3 separate regions of the Homo sapiens genome follow, and all the other regions are linked to region 1. The links come from fine-mapping of genetic effects on gene expression. A gene starts in region 1. Each other region holds a variant in brackets. All regions are shown on one strand. Distances are between the middles of the regions. Region 1 holds the start of ZFP37 (ZFP37 zinc finger protein). Region 2 has its middle 19 kb from the start of ZNF883. Region 3 has its middle 12 kb from the start of SLC31A2.

Region 1 (5,083 bases):
TTTTGACACGGCCAAAATAGAGCCACTGACATCACCCCAGATCCCATTTCCATCCACCAAATCTAGTCTTTTCCACCATAACCCTTTCCATTCAGAAAATAGAATCACCATCCATCCGGTTCTTCAGGTTAAAAGTCTAGATGTAAATCTCGATTCTTCTCTTTCCTCATACTCCATATATCAATACATTAGTAAGTTCTATTGCTTATCTCCAGATGTATTCTGAATTTGATTTCATTTTGCTGCTACAACTCTATTCTAAATCACCATAATCTCTTGTCTTTGACTATTGCAAAAAGTTCCTAACTGACCTCCCTATATCTACCTACTCTTGCCCCTCTGCAGTCCGTCTTCCATGAGGTAGCCATGGTGATCTTTTCAAGGTGTCAGTCAGAACAGATCATTCCCCTGCTTAAACTCAATGGCTTCTCACTGCATCTAGAATAAAATCCAAATCCTTACACTAGCCAATAAAATCCTACATTATCTGATACCTTCCTACCACTATGATTCACAGCTTTCTACTTTCCCTCTGACTGTGCTCCAACAGCACTAATCTTCCTTCTCTTTTTTAAGCACACCAAGTTTACTCCTACCCCAGGTCCTTTGCAGTTGATGTTTATTTCTTCCTGAAACACTCTTTCTTCAGATCTCTGCATGGCTGCCTCCTTGTGATGATTTATGCCTCAACCCAACTGTCATTTGCTAAGGAAAGCTTTCCATGACTAACCTGGCTAAAGTCATGCACTCCCTACCCTCAATCACTCTGTACCACACCATCCTCTTTTACTTACTTCAGCACTTATTAGTGTCTGGAATAATTTTATTTGTTTATATTTTATGATATCTTTCATATTTCTATAATGTAAGTCATTGAGGGAGGGATTCTGGTTTTGTTTCCTGGTGTGTCTCCAGCATTTAAAACATTCCCTGGTTTTGAGGACAAAGCAGGGACTGCAAAACAACAACACCAAACAAATAAAATAAAAAATACCCCCTGGCATAAAATAAATGCTCATCTTACAGACTGTTCCTACTGTTCCTGCAAGTTTTCAATCACTGACACCCAAATACTCCCCAATCACTAACCTTCACAAACTTCTCCCAATTATGGATCTCTGCAAGTTCCCAACTATCACTCTCCACAGAACAATCATTAACCTCCACAGATCTCCAATCACTGACCACCAAAGAACCCTCAATCATTAAATGCAGCAATCCCCTCAAACTCCTGACCCCCTTAGACTTCTAGTCACAGAATCATAGAGGATCTTCAATCATTAATTCCTACTAATCACCTCATTACTCAAAGCACAGTTATTACTGCTAGACACCACCTAATTATTGACCTGCATACATCCCCAATTACCTTTTCTCCCCAGATGACATACAAATCATCTACCATCCCCAGAGACACCTCAACATTGACTCCCCAAACTCCAACAGTCATATTCCCCCCTCACTGGCCCCCCGATTCCTCCATTACCCACTGACCCTCAAAGATACTGCTAATCAAACTTCCACAGACATCACCGTCACTGACTCCCAAGCCCCAATCTCTGATGCTCCCAGATGCTCCCAATCACTGAATTTCCCAAATCCTAACACTGACCCTCTTTGATAACCCAGGCTCTAACCACCACAGGCACCCATAATCGCTGGCTCCCATAGACATCCCAAACCGCCAACCCCCACGGTCCTTCCCTATCTCTGACACATCACAAAGCCTCCATTTCTGATCTCCTTCCAAACTCCGACACTCGGTGACTGCCACAGACGCCTCCCCATCATTGTCTCTGCAGATCCCTCCTAATACTGATATCCTAAAGCCAAATCATTAACCCCACAGATAACTCAGAACACCGACCTCCCAAAAGACCATCTAGCATCGATTCCACCAATTCCCAAATCACCTATCGTCACAGACTACTCCAATCACTGCCCCGCAAGTACACCATCTCTGACCGCCAAAACACCCTGTCTCATCACAGCTCTCACCGCGGCGCTGGCCTCGGGCTCGGACACAGCCATCTCCAGTGGTCGCCCGGCCTCTTTGGTCGTTTCCGCACTTCTCCTCCGGTCCACGGTCTCTGGCTTTGTCAGAATCTGGACGCCGCTGGAGACCGACATGGCGGCTACCCGGAGGGCGGCCTTAGCGGGTCCGGCAGCCGCGATGGCGGCGCCCTTCGGTAATAGCGCACGGGCGCGGCCATCTTGGCAAACACTCAGCCGTACAGCGGAAGTGCGGGGACTTCTGGGACAATTAGATCGGGAGGTGGAAGCTGGCGAGGGCGTTACTTGCAGGATGCAGGAGTGATGCGATCAGAGCCAGCCGGAACCGAGTTCCGTTACGCACTACAGGACTGACCTGGGCCTGACAACCCACTGCCGGAGTTCGGATCGCATCACTGCCGGAAGATATTTTACAGAATTTGGAATTGCTTTTCCGAATACATGTCAGTGCGGCCAGCGGCTAGAAGTCCGGGAATCACAACGCTTAGTGCGGACTTTAGAAAGGCAGGATGCGAGAAATTGGAAGCATAACGGAGAAAAGCCTGATCGAACAAATAACATTATTTTATAGGGAGAGGACGTTAATCTTTGAGATATACGATAAATCTTTTCATATATAGTATAAGAACAATAAGAAAAACTGAAACAGAAACTTAAGTAAACACACCACTCCTCCGTGAGAGCCCGGGTTTGGTGAAGATATTTCACCAGAATAATCAAGCACTTGGAGAAATAATTCCTTAATGCGCCATTTCATGCATTAATTGCATTCATTGAATATGTGCAGGTTAGGTGCTGCGCTATGCAAGGTACTGGAAAAAGAGTGGAGAGGGGTAGGGATGATGTAAGTCCAGAGTCCAAAGGCCAGAAAACCAGGGTCTCCAATGTCAAAAGGCAGAAGATGAATGTCCCAGCTCAAGAAAAAAGAAAAGGTGGGAGGGAAGTGGGGATACTTAACGGGTTTTTAAAAAAAAAGAAAAGAAAGAAGGAATAAGACCTAGTATTTGATAGCACTACAGGTGTATATATCCAATAATAATTTAGTTGTACATTTCGAAATAACAAAGTATAAATGGATTGTAACACAGAAGATAAATGCTTGAGGGGATAGATACCCCATTTTCCATGATGTGATTATTGCACTGTGCATGCCTGTATCAAACTACTTCATGTACCCCATAAATATACTCACCTACTATGTACCCACAAAAGTTAAAGATTAAAAAAAAATAGAAAAGAGGATTCACCCTTCCTTTTCCTTTTTGTCCTTTCAGGCCCTCAGTGGATTAGGTGGTGGCCACCCACATTGGTGGGGGCTTTTTTATTCAGTTTGCTAATTCAAATGCTAATCTTTTCCCAGAAACACACTAACAAACCCAGAAACAATGTTTCACCAGTTTTCTGGGCATCCTTTAGCCCAGTCAAGTTGACCGATAAAATTAACCATCACCCTAACCATGATATACACAGACTTCCAGGTTACAGAATCTGTGAGATAATAGGTTTGTGATACTTTAATCCACTAAAGCTGGTGATAATTTGTTATCCAGCAATACTAAACTAAGGACTCAGTGAAGACTGAAAAATAATTGATGGCTTGAAATTACTCTTCACCTACTTAAGACACGGCCCCCTACACTGTGTTCCTGACAGAGTATTCTTTGAGCGTCACCTTTGTACGGATAGGCAATTGCTTTGTTTCTGCCTCAGATATGGTCCTGACTTTAATTGTTCCTGATATTAGAGTCGTAAAAAGGTACAATATTTTTTTCAATACCTCTCCTTTCCTTTCTTCCTCACAAATCAGAAAGAGGGGCAGTTCAGTTTCTCAAGGATTTTCTTGAAACCAACATATATATACATAATATATACATATATATACATATACACATATATACACATGTATACATATATACACATATATACATATATACATATATACACATATATACATATATACACATATATACACACATATATATACATATATACACACATATATATATACATATATATACACATATATATATATGTGGTAGGGATGAGTTAGTACGGAGGATCAGAACATAATGTTGTACTGTTGAGTATATTCATTCGAGTAGACCTGAAAATTCTCCCGACAGGGACAGGGGAAGCAAGTGCGGCGATAACTGTGTGAATTCGGCTGATTCTAGTGAATTCCCTAATGAAGAGGTCACACACGGTAAATATGTATGGTATTTATTGTCATTCATACTTGAAGGCACCGGGAGGGGAAGAAAATATTAATCAGGCAAAAAAACGTAAAAGAGACATTACTTCTATGAGACTCTAGCATTCGTAGGAACACTCTCTGGTTCACAAGGATTGACCGAACACCTCGATATGTGGCTCTCCATCTGAGGCTTGCTCCAAATGGCCCTCCACTATTCCAGGCACGTGGGTGTCTCCCCTAACTCTCCCTGCTCTCCTGAGCCCATGCTGCCTATCACCAATCAGTGCAGGTCCTTTCTGAAGAGCTCGGGTGCATTCTCTCCATCCCACCTCTTTTCCCAAGAAAGAAGCCACCTGTTCCAAGACACGAAGTGGGACATTCCCCTTCCACCTCCTTCTCCAAAGTTCCCCAGGTGATCATCACAGGGTAGGGAGACAAGTTCCCAGATTTCAGTTACAAGACATAGGACGCTGGCATGAACACACACACACACACACACACACACACACACACACACACCTCGAAGAGGTAGCCACAAGGGTCATTAAACACATGACGACTGATTTCCAAAAACGTGGATGCAGTTCATCCTTGCCAAAGCCGAGGGTGCAAACGCGGAATGGCGGAGAGATTCCAGAGGCTCACCAAAACCTGCCAGGAATATTTTCCTGACCCTGGGGGCAGAGGTTGGAAATATTGAGGACATTTCTTGGGACACACGAAGAAGCTGAGGGACCAGGCATTTTCCTTTCCACTACGAATGACCTACACCGAGGGCATTTCACTTTCCCCTGGAAATCCCCTATGGTGAGGTACCGCCCCAAGCCCCCACCCCCACTTCCGCGAATCCACGTGGCTCAGTCTCTACACGGGTGT
Region 2 (5,083 bases), 26 kb before region 1:
TAAATTCAATAACGTTTGGAGTTGAGGTGATGTGGCACCTATCCTTCCATGTGCCCAGTGGAACAGAACAGTGTGGGGGCTAAAAACTTGGTCTGAAGCACCATCTTACACTTACTAGCCATGTGGCCTTAGCGGGGGCAGGGACTCTTCCTGGGCTCTACTTGCTTCATCTACAAAATGGAGAAAATGCCAGTCTCACAGATTTGCTGTACCTCACAGACCACAGATTTGTAATAATTAAATAAGAAGTATAGGTCACGTGCAGTGGCTCACACCTATGATCCCAGTACTTTGGGAGGATGAGGCAGGAGGACTGCTTGAGCCCAGGTGTTTGAGATCAGCCTGGGCACCAATGTGCGACCCCATCTTTACAAAAAAATAAAAAAATATATAGCTGGGTGCAGTGATGCACACCTGTGGCCCCAGCTATTTCACAATCTGAGGCTTGAGCCCAGGAGGCTGAGGCAGCAGTGAGCTATGATTGTGCCACCACATTCCAGCCTGGGTGGCAGAGCAAGACCCTGTTTTTAAAATTAAAGAAGTATATGCTAAATTGCTTAACAAAATTCCTGTGTGGCAGAAACATCCAATAAAAGCTTTAAAAAATTCACTGTGATCACCACAAGGAAACAAAGAACTTATGCTATGCATAACAGTATTTGTCTCAATACTGTACTGAGTTAAAACTAACAGAAGTGTGTAAACAGGAGTTCCATGTGCAGAACTACTCAAGTGTGTAGCATGGCAAGCCTGTCAGCTGCCACTTTGCTGCCCTCTTTTGTGTTATTCTGGTGCCCTTCTTACCACTTTATAGAAAACTACACTTTTAAAGCCTACAAATGACTTTGGATTACATAGAAATACATTAAATTTCACAGACAAACAGCCAAATCATGAGTGAATTCCCATTCACAATTGCTTCAAAGAGAATAAAATACCTAGGAATCCAACTTACAAGGGATATGAAGGACCTCTTCAAGGAGAACTACAAACCACTGCTCAATGAAATAAAAGAGGACACAAACAAATGGAAGAACATTCCATGCTCATGGATAGGAAGAATCAATATTATGAAAATGGCCATACTGCCCAAGGTAATTTATAGATTCAATGCCATCCCCATCAAGCTACCAATGACTTTCTTCACAGAATTGGAAAAGAACTACCTTAAAGTTCATATGGAACCAAAAAAGAGCCCACATTGCCAAGACAATCCTAAGCCAAAAGAACAAAGCTGGAGGCATCACACTACCTGACTTCAAACTATACTACAAGGCTACAGTAAGCAAAACAGCATGGTACTGGTACCAAAACAGAGATATAGACCAATGGAACAGAGCCCTCAGAAATAATACCACACATCTACAACCATCTGATCTTTGACAAACCTGACAAAAACAAGAAATGGGGGAAAGGATTCCCTATTTAATAAATGGCGCTGGGAAAACTGGCTAGCCATACTTAGAAAGCTGAAACTGGATCCCTTCCTTACACTTTATACAAAAATTAATTCAAGATGGATTAAAGACTTAAATGTTAGACCTAAGACCATAAAAACCCTAGAAGAAAACCTAGGCAATACCATTCAGGACATAGGCATGGGCAAGGACTTCATGACTAAAACACCAAAAGCAATGGCAACAAAAGCCAAAATTGACAAATGGGATCTAATTAAACTAAAGAGCTTCTGCACAGCAAAAGAAACTACCATCAGAGTGAACAGGCAACCTACAGAATGGGAGAAAATTTTTACAATCTACCCATCTGACAAAGGGCTAATATCCAGAATTTACAAAGAACTTAAACAAATTTACAAGAAAAAATCAAACAACCCCATCAAAAAGTGGGCAAAGGATATGAACAGACACTTCTCAAAAGAAGACATTTATGCAGCCAACAGACACATGAAAAAATGCTCATCATCACTGGCCATCAGAGAAATGCAAATCAAAACCATAATGAGATACCATCTCACACCAGTTAGAATGGTGATCATTAAAAAGCCAGGAAACAACAGGTGCTGGAGAGAGGATGTGGAGAAATAGGAACACTTTTACACCGTTGGTGGGACTGTAAACTAGTTCAACCA[T/C]TGTGGAAGACAGTGTGGCGATTCCTCAAGGATCTAGAACTAGGAATACCACTTGACCCAGCTATCCCATTACTGGGTATATACCCAAAGGATTATAAATCATGCTGCTATGAAGATACATGCACATGTATGTTTACTGCAGCACTATTCACAATAGCAAAGACCCAAATGTCCATCAATGATAGACTGGATTAAGAAAATGTGGCACATATACACCATGGAATACTATGCAGCCATAAAAAAGATGAGTTCATGTCCTTTGTTGGGACATGGATGAAGCTGGAAACCATCATTCTCAGCAAACTATCACAAGGGGTTCTGGTTCTGGCAGCTGGGAAGTCCAATATTGGGTGTCAGCACCTGGTCAGTTTCTGGGGAGATCTTGTGCTGCATTATAACATGGCAGAGGCGTGGAAGAGGAAATGAGTGCATGTGAAAGGCACAAATCACAAGGGGAGGTCTTGCTCCATAACAATTGGCTTTAGTGGTTAGTAATTCAGTCCTGTAAGAGTGAGAACTTGCTCACTTCAGCAAGAATTAACCCAGTCCCGGGAGAGTGGCATTAATTCCTCTTAACAACCTAATCACCTCTTAAAGGCTCCATCTCCCAACACCTCTACCCAGGGACCAAAATTCCAACACATGAATTTTGAGGCACACATTCAAAATATACCACTTAGATTAGGCAAAAGCATAAAGACAGAAAGTAGAATGGTTGTTTCCAGGAGCAGGAGGGTAGGGAGGATGAGGAGTTATTTTTTAATGGGTATAGAGTTTCAGTTTTATAAGAGGAACAGAGTAATGGAGATGGAGAATGGTGATGGTTGTACATTATGAATACATTTAGTAACACTGAACTGTACTGTTAAAAATGATGAAGATAGTAAATTCTATGTTATGTGTATTTTACCACATAAAAAATTGGAAATAAACAAATGCATTCTGGTGAATTTTTAAATGTTACTCCACTAGTGTATGATGTCTACCTTACTTTAAACAATGAAAGTAATTCTTACTGTCCAAAAACTCCGGGATGATCATGGTGTGTTGGATGTTCTGTTCCATGTTTCCTTCCACTCCCAGCTAGATATAAGGTGAGAGGAGGCAAGAATCAGACATTACATGAAAATGGTATTACATGGAAAAGGTATTAAATGGAAATTTCATTACATGAAAATGGTATTATGCATATGAGGAAAAAATATATATCAAATCTGTTAAAAGAAAACAGCTGAATTAAATTTAAAAGGAGTTTAATTGAGCAGTAAATGGTTCACAAATCAAGCAGCCCCCAGAATCACAGCAGATTCAGAGAGACTCCAGGGATGTCTCATGGTCAGAACAAATTTACAGACAAAAAAAGGGAAGGGACATACAGAAACTGGCAGTGAGGTACAAAAATAGCTGGATTGGTTACAGGTTGGCATTTGCCTTATTTGAACACAGTTTGAACACTTAGCAGTCTATGCGTGGTTGAAGTACGGCTGCTGGGATTGGCCAAGACTCAGCTATTGTTACAGGCCCACACTTCTAAGTTAGGTTTTCAATCTTGTCTGCCTATTAAGCTAGGTTACAGTTTATCCACAAGGACTCAAACACAGAAGTACAGAATCCTTCTCAGGCCATATTTAGTTCGCTTCAACAAATCTTATGTGCTGCAGACGTGTGCATATGTGCACTTACTGCAACACAAATGTATTTTATTATGCTACTTACTGCAATCAAATTTAGAATCCAAATATTGTCTCCAGTTAGTCAAATACGATCAAGACACATCTAAAAGAGGCGATTCTTATAGATTATTATAAACAAGAGATGTAATCAATCAGGAAAACCACACAGACAAGGAAATGCAAGGCACAAAAGATGAAGCCCTGGAAAATACCAACTGGCAAAGGATAAGAAGAGAAAGAGGTGCTGATGAAAGAAATAAAGGAGAAACAGAGGGAGCAGAAGATGAAGGAAGGCGGCGTCAAAAGAACAAATGGTGACATATTTCAAGGAAGAGTGGAGGATTAAATGTTAGATGCAACAAAAAAATCTGCTAAGTTAAGGACAAGAAAATATCCCTTGGATTTGATAACAGCAAGATGGACTTCGTATTATAGAAGTTGTTTCAGAGTAATGATGAACACAGAAGCTCTACTGCATGATACTGAAGTGTGTATGTGAACTGAGGAAGCAGAAACACCAAGATAGTATCAGTTTTCAAAAGCTTGTGTGTTGAGGGAAAGAAAGATGAGAATGCAGGTTACAAGATGGTATTTTTAATTTCAGAGAATTTAAGCAGGTCAAAGACTGATGTGGGAAAGCTCAAGATGATTTAAACGGGTCAGAGATTAAGCAAAGAAAACTACAGAAGAAAAGGAGAAGTAAAAGGCCTATAAGAGAGTGAATTCCTAGTGGACAGTGATCCCTGGGTATAAAGGAGGAAGTTTCCAAGCTACACAAGAGATCAAAAACAAGAGAAATCAAGAAAACAAAAATTGATTACATAAACAAATTTTAAATTCACAGTGGAACCAAAAACAAAGTCAAATTTTAAATTATTATTGAAGAAACACATTTCTTCAGAAAATTATAAAGGGATTGATCAAAAACCCAATAGAAAAAAGGACCAAGAAAGCCCAAGAGGTCCCTGAGGCTTTCCATGGTGCACTGTGCTCCTGGTTAATTGAGAATGGAGAATGGTGATGACTTTTACCAAGCATACTGCCTGTAAACATTTTGTTAACAAGGCACATCCTGCACAGCCCTAGATCCCTTAAACCTTGATTCCATACAGCACATGTTTCTGTGAGCACAGGGTTGGGGCTAAAGTTACAGATTAACAGCATCTCAAGGCAAAACAATTTCCTTAGTACAGATTAAAATGAAGTTTTTTATGTCTTCCTTTTCTACATAGACACAGTAACAATCTGATCTCTCTTTCTTTTCCCTACAAAAACTTTCCTGCACAATGTATGCGTTGAATCAAAGACTTTATATGGTGGT
Region 3 (5,083 bases), 82 kb after region 1:
AGGGACTGTAAATGCTGCATTCACCACTGAATTCTAATCACGTACCTGTGCTGGCACATAGGTACGCTCAATAGATATTTTAAAAGTATGTGAATGTATCTCATCTGCTCTAGAATACTGTTTTAGAAATAAAGGACACTTTTACTCATAAAACTAAGTGGGTTCAGCTAAAATCATGATCTTATTTTGTCTTTTTTTCTCCACTGGGGATATTCTCGCACCCCAGAGGTTACTCACACATTCCTCAAATGACACGGAAAGTAGAGGAGTGGAGTGGAAGTTGAGATCGAGGGTCATTCTTCCAACTATTGGGCTTACTCAAGTAGTTTAGGGAAGACACCTCAGAGGGGTAGTTTGGTGGGAGGGGAAATTCTGTGGTCTGGGAGCCAGGAAACTTGTTCTGTTTCCAGGTGGCACCAGTAGCTGTGTAAGCTGTGACAGGCCCAGGCACTGGACACAGGCTCTGTGGCCCTTCTCACCCCTCCCTTCCCAGGTGCCCATCCAGACCATGCATATGAGGACATCTCTGTCTCAGGGACACAGGCAGCCCCTCTCCATGTGCATGGGAGATAGTTCTTAATATTAACAAAAAACTGCCACTGCCATGCTGGGCACTTCAGGCCGCAGCTCAGTGTTTCTTAACTCAGGAGTGTTCCAAACACCTCAGCAGCAAGACCCTATGGAGGCCAGTCCCTCCTTGGTATCTTTTATGTAAGAGAAGAGTTGGTTCAGCTTCACAATCAGGACAAGGAGGGCCAGCTGCAGCCCAGGGCGGGAGGACAAGCCCAGGTCTCAGAATTGGAGTTGAAAGATTGTTAGCAGGTGTCAGAAGATCTGGAAACTGGTCATTAGAAATTGTACAACCTAGAAAATCTGTTTAGCCTCTGTGGACTATCACTTTTGGGACAGTCAGTGAGACAATGCAGATGAAAAGTAGATTCCTAAACTGGGCACAGTAGTGCGTGCTGTAATCCCAGCTATTCAGGAGGCTGAGGCAGGAGGTTCATTTGAGCCCAGGAGCTCGAGACCAAGCTAGGCAACATAGCGACACCCTGTTTTTTTTTTTTTTTTTTAAAAAAAGCATGTTCTTTTACTAAACAGCTGTTGAAATTTAAATATTTACACCCTATCTTTCACAAAGCCCATTTTTCTGAGAAGAAAAAGGAAACTGGTAGAACTTCATTCTTCTTGGAAGAATTGTCAAGATGATCTTTGCACAACCCTCTGAGATCATTTCTCTCCTTTGCTCAGAGATATTTAATGCAGGAATTGCTGCTCTTTTCTTTTTTGTGAATCTGATTAAAATTATGGATCCTCTCGAGAGAGAGAAGTGCCCCTGCACTGACGCACATAAAGTTTTGCATATAACTTCTGTGGCTGTTTTACACCCGGAAGTCTATGAATCCAGGTTGCAAAAATCCAGAAAAGGAATGTTTGAACTCTGAAGCATCTCAGAAGCCAAGATTATGATCCTTGATTACACTGGCCAAGCCAGTCTAGACAGTGCCAGTAGCCTGCCCTGTCTCTCAACTTCTGGTTCATCTCCAGGGAATGTTCAGTTCAGACCTACCAAAGTTGACAGTCCAGGCAAAATCTGCCTTTGAATAGCAGTTCCCTCACCCTCGCTGCTCCTCGGACACTCTCAGCTGCCCTCAATGCATGGCACTGGTGTGGGAATAGGTACAATGGTGAAGCAGTCAGAGGCAGGTGGAGACCTTGTGGTGATGAAATCAGAGCTGGCTTCCAGCTCTGCTCTGCCACCAGTACTGCTTGGTCCTTGGCAGGTCAGGTCCCTTGATCCCAGGCCAGCGCTCCTCCCTCCCTCTGCTGTACCACTGACCTAGGCTCATCTGCAGAGCCACGCCTGGAAAGTCACACTTGAGGAAACAGGCTGCCTCCTAGGAGAGATCCCAGCTTGAATAAAGGCTCCCACTAAATCCAAGAACCTCAGAGAAGGGCAACAGTGCAGGTGTGGAGCTCACACTGTGCTTTCTTTCATAGAGCATAACAGATGTTCTGTACTGTCCCTAAAAAGGGACAGGAATGGAAAATGACCC[T/C]CCTCAGCCTTTCAAAAGTTTGGGGCCAAAGTATTGTCCCCACTGTGGTGTCCTGTTGGAGATTTAGATCTCACATTGGGTCAGTGTCTGGAGGGTAAGAAGCTTCAGCTGGACACAGTGGCCCACACCTGTAATACCAGCACTTTGGGAGGCCAAGGTAGGAGGATTGCTTGAGCCCAGGAGTTGGAAGTTACAGTGAGTTATGATCGCACCACTGTACTCCAGCCTGGGTGACAGAGGGAGACTCTGTCTCAAAAAAAAAAAAAAAAAAGAAGAAGAAGAAGCTTGGAAGTGTTCCTGATAGACCAGAATACCTGAAGTCAGTGAACCAGAGCTGCAGCCCCAGCTCTTCCTTTGCCCTCTAAGTGTCTTCAGGGAAGGCACTATCTTTTCTGGCATCAGTTTTCTCTACTATCAAATAGAAAGTATTTAACACAATGATCCCCAAGGTTTTCTCATATCAAAATGTCTCACAATCTCTGTTATTTATTCACTCCTTACCAAGCAAATGCCTCTAAGGCAGTGCCTGATTTCTGCTTATCACAGGTACCCTTCATTTTTTATGGGCTCAGGTCCCTTGGAGAGAAAACAGAGACATACACTTAGCATCTCAGCACAATTCCCTCCTTACCGGGCACTGTCACAATGGCACTTTGGGAAAGAGCAGCCAGGTTGTGATGGTTCTCTCATTTTACAGATGAGGAAAGCGTTTCAGAGAGGCTGTATGACTCACCCAGAGTCAAACATGGACTCACAGGATGTCAGTGTTAGAAAAGATGTCAGAGATTAAAAGAAGATAATCCTCACTGTCATTTTATTGATAAGGAAACAGGCCCAGGTAGTGACAACGGTGGCACCCTCAGATTCTAAGACTCCTAGTCCTGAGTTCTTCCCATAAAACTGCTTCCATTTCACCATTTGTAAACTGAGGCTAATCATACTGCCCAACTCATAGGGTAGTTGTGAGCCCTTAGCACTTACAGGTAAACACTCAATCAATAACAGCCATTATATGATGCTGCCTGCACTACCTCCTATATCCATTTAAGATTTATCCATGACATCTTTGGCTAGAACTACCCCAAACAGACTTTTCATAAAACATTCAACTTTTTGTCACCTGCAGTGGGGAACTGAGAATGGGTTGGGTAAATAAAGATGAGTGAGGACCGAGAGAGTTGAGGGCCTATTGTTTGGGGGTGGGAAGGTAGCTGTGCCATTGGGAAAGATTCTCCTACAGATGTAGAAGAATCCAGAGCCCAACAGTCCCCCGTTGCAGAGATGAACACAATGGAGAGGGACATCCGGGCCCAACTGGCAGCTCACAAAGAGTTATTGTCACTGTGTTTGACCTTGTTCAATGTCCCTGAAACAAGGGCAGCTGAGTTCTTGTGACAATCAGTGCCAGTCATCGGAGCACAAAACAAGCTCTGTGTGAGTTCCTGCCTCTCTTCACATGATGTTATCTCATTTTGCATGGCACTTTACAGTTTATCCAGGATGAGACTTAGGCAGACTTTATCTTACCTTGTCCCACAGAATCCCTGTGCAGGGGACAGAGAATATCTGTCATCATCTCACAAGATTTCATCTCCATTTTACAAGCTAGAAACTGAGATGCAGAGACTGTTGAATGACTTTATATAAGGTCACACAGGACACAGCTTAGCCAAGACCCAAACTATTGTTTTTGATTCCTTATTTAGTCCTGTCCGAGTCTTCTCTCCAAAGGACTATACTGATCAAGTGATTTTAGTGTCTTCCATTGCTCGACTCAAATGATAATTACTCTGAGAAGTTTTATACAGTTCTGTGTGAAGGTCATATTCTTTCTTTGTTCTGGTTTTCTGTGCCTACCCCAAGCTATCATGAAACTACAATAGAGCGCTGAATATACCGCCTCATGTGCTGGAATGGAGCCCTTCAACATAATTAAAGGATCACAAGCATTTGTGCTCCAGGAAATCTCCAGGCCCTATGGTGATGACTTGTCATTTTAAGTAATCACGTTTTTTAATAAAGCAGTATTTCTAAGAATTGCAAAGGACCTCTGAGTGTCAGAGAAAATAGACTGACACAGCAATTCCACTCCTAGGTATTTGCTGAATAAAAATGAAAGCATATATCCACAGAATCACTTGTACATGAGAGTTTATTGTTGCTGGAAACAACCCAAATATACATTGACAGGAAAAATATATCCACACAGTGGAACCCTACTTAGCAATAAAGAAGAACGAACCTCATAGCTCAGTCTAATCTCAGAGACACTGGGTTTACTGTTGCGGGAAGTCAGGAACCCCAAATGGAGGGACCAGCTGAAGCCATGGCAGAAGAACATAAATTGTGAAGATTTCATGGACATTTATTAGTTCCCCAAATTAATACTTTTATAATTTCTTATGCCTGTCTTTACTGCAATCTCTGAACATAAATTGTGAAGATTTCATGGACACTTATCACTTCCCCAATCAATACCCTTGTGATTTCCTATGCCTGTCTTTACTTTAATCTCTTAATCCCGTTATCTTCGTAAGCTGAGGAGGATGTATGTTGCCTCAGGACCCTGTGATGATTGTGTTAACTGCACAAATTGTTTGTAGAGCATGTGTGTTTGAACAATATGAAATCTGGGCACCTTGAAAAAAGAACAGGATAACAGCAATGTTCAGGTAACAAGAAAGATAACCTTAAACTCTGACTGCTGGTAAGCTGGGCAGAACAGAGACATATTTCTCTTCTTTCAAAAGCAAATGGGAGAAATATCGCTGAATTCTTTTTCTCAGCAGGGAACATTCCTGAGAAAGAGAATGTGTCCCTGAGGGTAGGCCTCTGAAATGGCCGCTTCGGAAGGCGGCTGTCTTTTATGGTTGAAGCTGTAGGGGTGAAATAAGCCCCAGTCTCCCATAGCGCTCCCAGGCTTATTAGGATGAGGAAATTCTCGCCTAATAAATTTTGGTCAGACTGGTTGTCTGCTCTCAAACCCTGCTCCTGATAAGATGTTATCAATGACAATACGTGCCCGA

The links. PIP is the estimated chance that this variant, and not a neighbour inherited with it, causes the effect.
Region 2: its variant is the best candidate, but not a certain one, in a credible set for the expression of ZFP37 in monocytes (TOPMed, PIP 0.57).
Region 3: its variant is the best candidate, but not a certain one, in a credible set for the expression of ZFP37 in lung (TOPMed, PIP 0.51).

Annotation. Positions count from the first base shown.
Region 1 is chr9:113,054,559-113,059,641 of GRCh38, forward strand. It overlaps ZFP37 (ZFP37 zinc finger protein), which reads right to left and starts at 2,166. Exons shown (of 4, transcript NM_003408.3): 1 at 1,999-2,166. The coding sequence starts at 2,130. RefSeq lists an enhancer at 1,797-2,366.
Region 2 is chr9:113,028,580-113,033,662 of GRCh38, forward strand. No RefSeq gene overlaps it. Among named protein-coding and RNA genes, the nearest start is that of ZNF883, 19 kb to the left of the region's middle. The variant T/C (reference allele first, on the strand shown) is at 2,090.
Region 3 is chr9:113,136,196-113,141,278 of GRCh38, forward strand. No RefSeq gene overlaps it. Among named protein-coding and RNA genes, the nearest start is that of SLC31A2, 12 kb to the right of the region's middle. RefSeq lists a silencer at 2,140-2,335. The variant T/C (reference allele first, on the strand shown) is at 2,058.